2 separate regions of the Homo sapiens genome follow, and region 2 is linked to region 1. Evidence: fine-mapped expression QTL. A gene starts in region 1. The other region holds a variant in brackets. All regions are shown on one strand. Distances are from middle to middle. Region 1 holds the start of SLC39A4 (solute carrier family 39 member 4). Region 2 overlaps ZC3H3 (zinc finger CCCH-type containing 3).

Region 1 (2,892 bases):
TGCCGGGCCCAGCTGCTTCAGGCTCCCACTCAGGCCTCTGGGTTCCTCCCTCATGAGGTCCCTCCCGGGGCTCCTACAGGCTCCCAACTGCCCAGTAGTGAGCCCCACGTTGTGAATCCCCAGCCGCAGGCCGACTCCTGGGCGTCTCCCCAGGCCCCCAGGCTCCCCGAAGGCTTTGCAGCCAGGCCGGGTCCCATGGGCCGTGGGACCCTCCTCACCCACTCCCCTGGTCTGCCTGGACTCTCCCTCACCATCTTGGGGGTCTGGCCGGCAGCCCGGGCCTGCATCCTCTGCAGCAGCCAGCTCAGGCCCGGGGTCAGGGCCTTGGGGCTCTCGAGCAGGGCCAGGAGGTGGTCTGCATGAGAGGCCCAGAGGCCAGCCCGAGCGTCCTCACAGGTGCCCTCGGGGTTGCTGAGGTACAGGACGGCGGCGGCACTGAGGCGGGCGACGTACCTGGCCTCCAGGACCGGGCCCGGGGGCAGCCCTGACCCCTCAGGCTCGCCCAGGCCCAGGGCGTCCTCCACAGACAGGCACTGTGGGCAGAGACAAGTGAGCAGGGGCGCTGGGCCCACCAGGGAGGGGAGAGGCAGGCCTGGCCAGGGGCTTCCCCGAGGGCCTGTTTCCCTTTCAAGTCCAACAACGTCCACCATCCTCTCTCAACCCCTGGCGCCCTTCCGTCTCCCCAGGCCCCTGTCCTGCTTCCCCAACTACAGGGGTGCACGCAGAGGGGTCCCCAACAGTGGTCCCCCATCCCCAGGGGACTCCCCTGGAGCCACTGCCAATTTGATGGCAGAGGGCCGGCAGGGGGAGTTGGCCCTGGGGTCCTGGGGAGAAGAGGGACTGTGTCCCTGGAAAGGCCTGTCTGCCCTCATGAGCAGGAGGGTGGGCTCTGGCCTGTGGGGAGGGTCAGGGTGCCCAGGTACTGCCACTAGCCTCCTCCGCCTCCTGGAGTTTGCCCAGGGCCCTTTGCTGCCGGCTGGCAGGGCGGAGCTGGCGGGAAGAGGCCAGGGCTGGGGGACCCGTCGGGTGGGGCTGTTACCTTTCCACACGGCCCGTTGGCGCAGTGCACACGGTCCGCCAGCGTATTTAACAGGCCGCCCAGAGCCTCTTGATCCAGAGCGCCCTGGCCAGAGGTGAGCAGGCTCAGCAGACCAGCAGGCGGGGACGCCGTCGCCGTCACCACCAGCACAGCCAGAAGCAGCCCCAGCTCCAGCGAGACCAGGGACGCCATACTCAGCTCCCAGCGTGCTCAGTGGGTGTTGCTGTGGCCAAGGCCCAGTGCTTCTGGGCTGGCTGAGGGCGGCTTTGCTGGGGTTGTCCAGGGCCAGACTGGGGCTGGGCTAGGACCCGCCCGGGCTGCATGAGGACCTCTCCCAGGTATTCCTGCAGAGCTCTGTGATTGGCTGCTGGAGATGCCTGGGTTAACCATTCCAGTGGCAGATCCTCCCCAACAGCCTGGAGCCACTGCCTGTGGGGGTCGAGGGCTGGGCCCCTTCCCCTGGACAGGCAGCCTCGGTGGTCTTTTTTTTTTCGAGTTGGAGTTTTGCTCTTGCTGCCCAGGCTGGAGTGCAATGGCGTGATCTTGGCTCACGGCAACCTCCGCCTCCCGGGTTCAAGTGCTTCTCCTGCCTCAGCCTCCCGAGTAGCTGGGATTACAGGCAGCGCCACCACGCCCGGTTACTTTTGTATTTTTAGTAGAGACAGTGTTTCTCCATGTTGGTCAGGCTGGTCTTGAACTCCCAACCTCAGGTGATTCGCCCGCCTTGGCCTCCCAAAGTGCTGGGATTACCGGCGTGGCTCACCACGCCAGGCCAGCCTGGGTGGGCTTCTGTCCTCTGCCTGCTGCCCCCCAAGCTGTGGGGCAGGGCTGGGGTGTCCCCTTCTGGCTGTCCATCTGGGGGCTGCCTCCAAGCTGGGGGACACAGGGCAGAGGTGCACAGATGCCCCCAGAGCCTGAGAGCTCCCAGGTCCCTGCCTCTGCCCCTCCCAACAGAGGCTGCCCAGACACCCTCGGTGGCCCCTGTTGGGGGTGGGGACATGGACCTCCCTCCTCCTGGGTCCTGGGCTGTGGTCCCTGTTGGGGACTGCGATGGAGTCAAAGAAACTGAAAAGGTGCCTGCTGCATCATGCTCCCTTAGGCCGGAGACAGCCCCAGGAAGCTCCAACACAGACAAACAGGAAGACGGAGCTGGGCCCTGGCAGCCACCTGGCCGAGCTTGGGTCAGGATAAGATTGGGGCAAGACCCCAGCTCTAGCCCCGGGGGCAGGGAGGCTGTGGCTCCCAGCCCTGCCCTCTCTGTGGGCTCCCTCTCTGGCCTTTGAGCCTAGAGGCCTTATCTCTACCGTGGTGGTGATGGCAGGAAGTCTGGGGGAAGGGGAAGGCAGATCTCAGGGCAGCTTTGCCTTCTGAAGGGGGAGTCCAGATGCCACCTCCCGCCCGGTCCAGCCAGCCTGACCCTGAGCATTGTGGGTGGGGCTGGGGTGGGGAGCTGGGTGCCTGAGGCCCAAGGACTCTGTCCCGCCATACACAGGGTGGGACGGGGCAGGGCGGGCATTGAGCCCAGTGTCCTGGGGTCAGGGTGCTTCCCCTGCCGGCCTCACCCCACCAAGCGGATCTCATGGTGCTCCTCTGGCTGGGCCCACCCGCAGTGGTATCCTTCTGGGGGCCCTTAGGGGAGCCTGCCGGGGGTGCAGATCCTGCCGGGGGTGCAGAGCCTGCTGGGGGTGCAGATGATTTCTGGGTCCCAGGACCATGAGGGGGCTGCTCTACACACAGCCTGAAGATGCTGCGGACCCAAACTGGCCCTTTCCCTCCCACACCACCCCAGGACCAATGGGCTGGCTGGAGGCCACCCATGCTAAAATAGGCTCAAGGGCCTACTTTAGCTTCTG
Region 2 (2,892 bases), 950 kb before region 1:
GTCTTGGTGCGGAGGGACCAACGCGGGGGTGCTCAGGGCAGCCCCCGTTCTCAGGCCGGGACCCTTGTCCCCGGGTGGGCAGCAGGGCCCAGTCCAGACGGCACGGGCACGCCCTCACACCTGCCAGCCTGTGGGGTGAGGGACGCGGCAATGCGGCGGTCTGTCGGCACTGCTGGTTCCCAGTCTCTCGCCCAGGCTGCCAGTGACACTGCGACGCCATCTGCTCCAGGCAGGGACACACTGGCATCACGTGCCCGCCTGGCAGGACCGGGTGCAGCAGGAGGGGTTACCTCCCTTTCCACTTTGTGCTCTTTAAAAAAATGCCAGTGTGAGGCTCACGGCAGGAGTTCTGACAAGAACAGGAGGCACTTTTTCAAATGCTTTGCAGTGTTAAAAAATGCACATAAAATAGCTGGCTGGAAAAGAAGCAAGGGCTGCCTGAGAAGTGCTAAAAAGTTCAACTGAATAACCCCCAGCAGCTCCACAGCAGAAGGCGCCATGCATTCCAGAGAACTTTCACTTCCCCGGGATCTTCTCAGAATAGACTCGGCTCCCACCAGCCCCACCCCCTGCTCGGTGCCCCAGTGCCAGCTCTGGGCACCGCTGGATGTCAGGCTCTGCAAGGCAAGCGGGGTGGGGGCCTTGCAGTCAGAGGTTCCTCAGCACCTCCAGGCCCTGCTCCGGCCAGCACCCACTGGACAGCTGCTGCCTGGCCCAAGGGACAACATCCACGATGACCGGGGCACGCAGGCAGCCCCAATTCCCAGGCCAGCACTCTCCCAAGAAGTTAGGCAGGGCTGCGCCAAGCCCTGGTCTGCTCACAGCGCGCCCACCAGGCCCTCCAGGGCACGTCCGTCTGGCACATGGAGGCTGTGCCCTTGGGAGAAGGCAGCCAGCGGCAGAGGGTGCCCCAGAAGAGGCAGTGTGGGGCGGGGGCAAGCCGACAGGGCCTTCGTCACCCCAGGGAGGGTGGGCAGGTGACCAGCAGGGGAGGCGCAGAGGCCGGACGTGCCAGGAACACGCAGCAGCTGGCCCACAGCAGGGAGGGCCACGGCCACAGGTGGCTGGGGGCTTTGGGGACACAGAACAAGCCAAGGCCAGCCCTGTGGCCAGAGACTGGGGCCTCTGCCCCACCACAGGAGCCATCAGGCTCATGGTGGCCACATATGGGCCATGCTCACTGGGGGCCCACACAGGATTCTGTGGGGAGGGACCCTGGAGCTCAGGCCTTCAGGTGGCAGGCGGGCCCAGGAGGGAGGGCTCGGCTTCAGGGACTGGGGAAGCTGGGGGTAGAAGCCATACTGTCCTCTGCCGTCAGGGGCCCAGAGCCCAGGGGGTCAGCCAGGACAGCCACCCCCACCCC[T/C]TCCAAGAAGGCTGCTGCACTTTCTTGTTGAAGTCAAATTTCTGCTGACACCAGGGGAGGAAATTTATTTCTTTAATTATTATTCCTCTTAAGTGGGCTGGTCAGCGGTATCCCACAGCTGGGAGCCATCTACCTTCCTCATGGCGAGGCGGGGCCGGTGGTGGCCCAGGCAGCTGGAGCTGTGGCCTCGCCTGTCGACCCAAAGGGCGAGTGCGGCCTCACTGGGCTCTGCACAGCCCCAGGACTGCCACAGTCGCCACCAAGGCTGGCCAGCGGGACACCGGAGGCCATAGCCCTACTCGATGGCAGGCGGGCCTCCCCAGGGGCAGGGGTGGGAGCAAGGAGGCCCCTGGACCCCTGCCTGCCCTGGCTGGCACCAGCCTCTGTGCGCCAGACCCTCCTTGCTGGCGTTGCTGAGGCTGAATGAAGGAGTTCTGGGTTGCTGCTGGTGCAGGGGTGAGACATGCCCCAGAAGGGCTGGGGGAACCAGACTGGCTCTCTGATGGCTCTGGGCCAAGGGAAGGGCCAACGGAGGCAGAGGCCAGTCAGCAAGGGTGGCCGGGATAGACTGTTCACAGTGTGGTGACGTCAGGGGCTCTGCGCCCGCCAGGGCTCTGCCATGTGTGTAAATGGCAAGGCGAGATTCTGCGGAGCTCAGCACTTGGCACCGACGGGGAGACACAGCAGCACCACAGCCTCCCAGGGAGGAGTGTGCAGCCCCTCCCTCTCCTCCCCACTGCTGAGCGGGCCAGGGCTATGCACTCCCTCCTCCCCAAAGCTCAGACCCTGGGCCATCCGGGTGGTGGGCACCGTGTCTGAGGGGGCCAAGTGCAAACCTGCTGCCTGCCACAGGCGTCTCTGTGGACACTGAGGGATGGGAGAGCTGGGATGGCAGGTGCACCTCCCCACACAGGCCCACCCAGCCCAACAAACGTGGGCCACAGGATCCCGGCGAGGGCTGAGACGACCCAAGGGCCCCGGTGCGGGGAGACGGACCCATGCCACAAGCCCCTCCGTGGGTCCCGCGGGTGCACGGTGCAGGGAGAATCCCAAGGACGCACCGCGACCTGGGTGAACAGGCGGGGCCAGCCTTGGCCCTGTGCAGGGAGTGGGATGCAGCTGCTGCAGTGGGGGCCACTCCCTGAGTGGGTGGGTCCTCCCTGGGATGGGCTCTGGCTCTGGAAAGGGCAGTAGGCATCCCCTCCCTGGCTCCAGCTTCCGCAGAGCAGGGCAGGGCCTGCAGACTGACTGCCAGGAGCAGCCTCTGCTGCCTATCCTGGCCGCCTGGGGCTCTCGCGTACGTCAGGACATCATGGTCTCCATGGCTGCTGTCTTGGCCACTTAATTATCAACCTCAGTCAGTACTACTATCGTGACTACCGGGAGCTTTCTGAATGTGGGTGCAGTGGTGCCAGGTAGACCCCGCCTGCCCCCAACCCATCTCCTCCCCCTGCTGGCTGTGCACAGGGTCCTGCGATGCCTCACGCCCCCTCCCACTCCTGCCCAGGCCTCTGCATGGCGGCCTCAGG

The links. PIP is the estimated chance that this variant, and not a neighbour inherited with it, causes the effect.
Region 2: its variant is fine-mapped to the expression of SLC39A4 in skeletal muscle (GTEx, PIP 0.98).

Annotation. Positions count from the first base shown.
Region 1 is chr8:144,415,559-144,418,450 of GRCh38, forward strand. It overlaps SLC39A4 (solute carrier family 39 member 4), which reads right to left and starts at 1,286. Exons shown (of 12, transcript NM_130849.4): 1 at 1,040-1,286; 2 at 252-533. The coding sequence starts at 1,231. It overlaps LOC124902041 (a long non-coding RNA gene), which reads left to right. Exons shown (of 2, transcript XR_007061145.1): 2 at 1-2,892.
Region 2 is chr8:143,470,402-143,473,293 of GRCh38, forward strand. The region is part of intron 5 of ZC3H3 (zinc finger CCCH-type containing 3); the gene reads right to left. Among named protein-coding and RNA genes, the nearest start is that of SNORD149, 34 kb to the right of the region's middle. RefSeq lists an enhancer at 176-877. The variant T/C (reference allele first, on the strand shown) is at 1,364.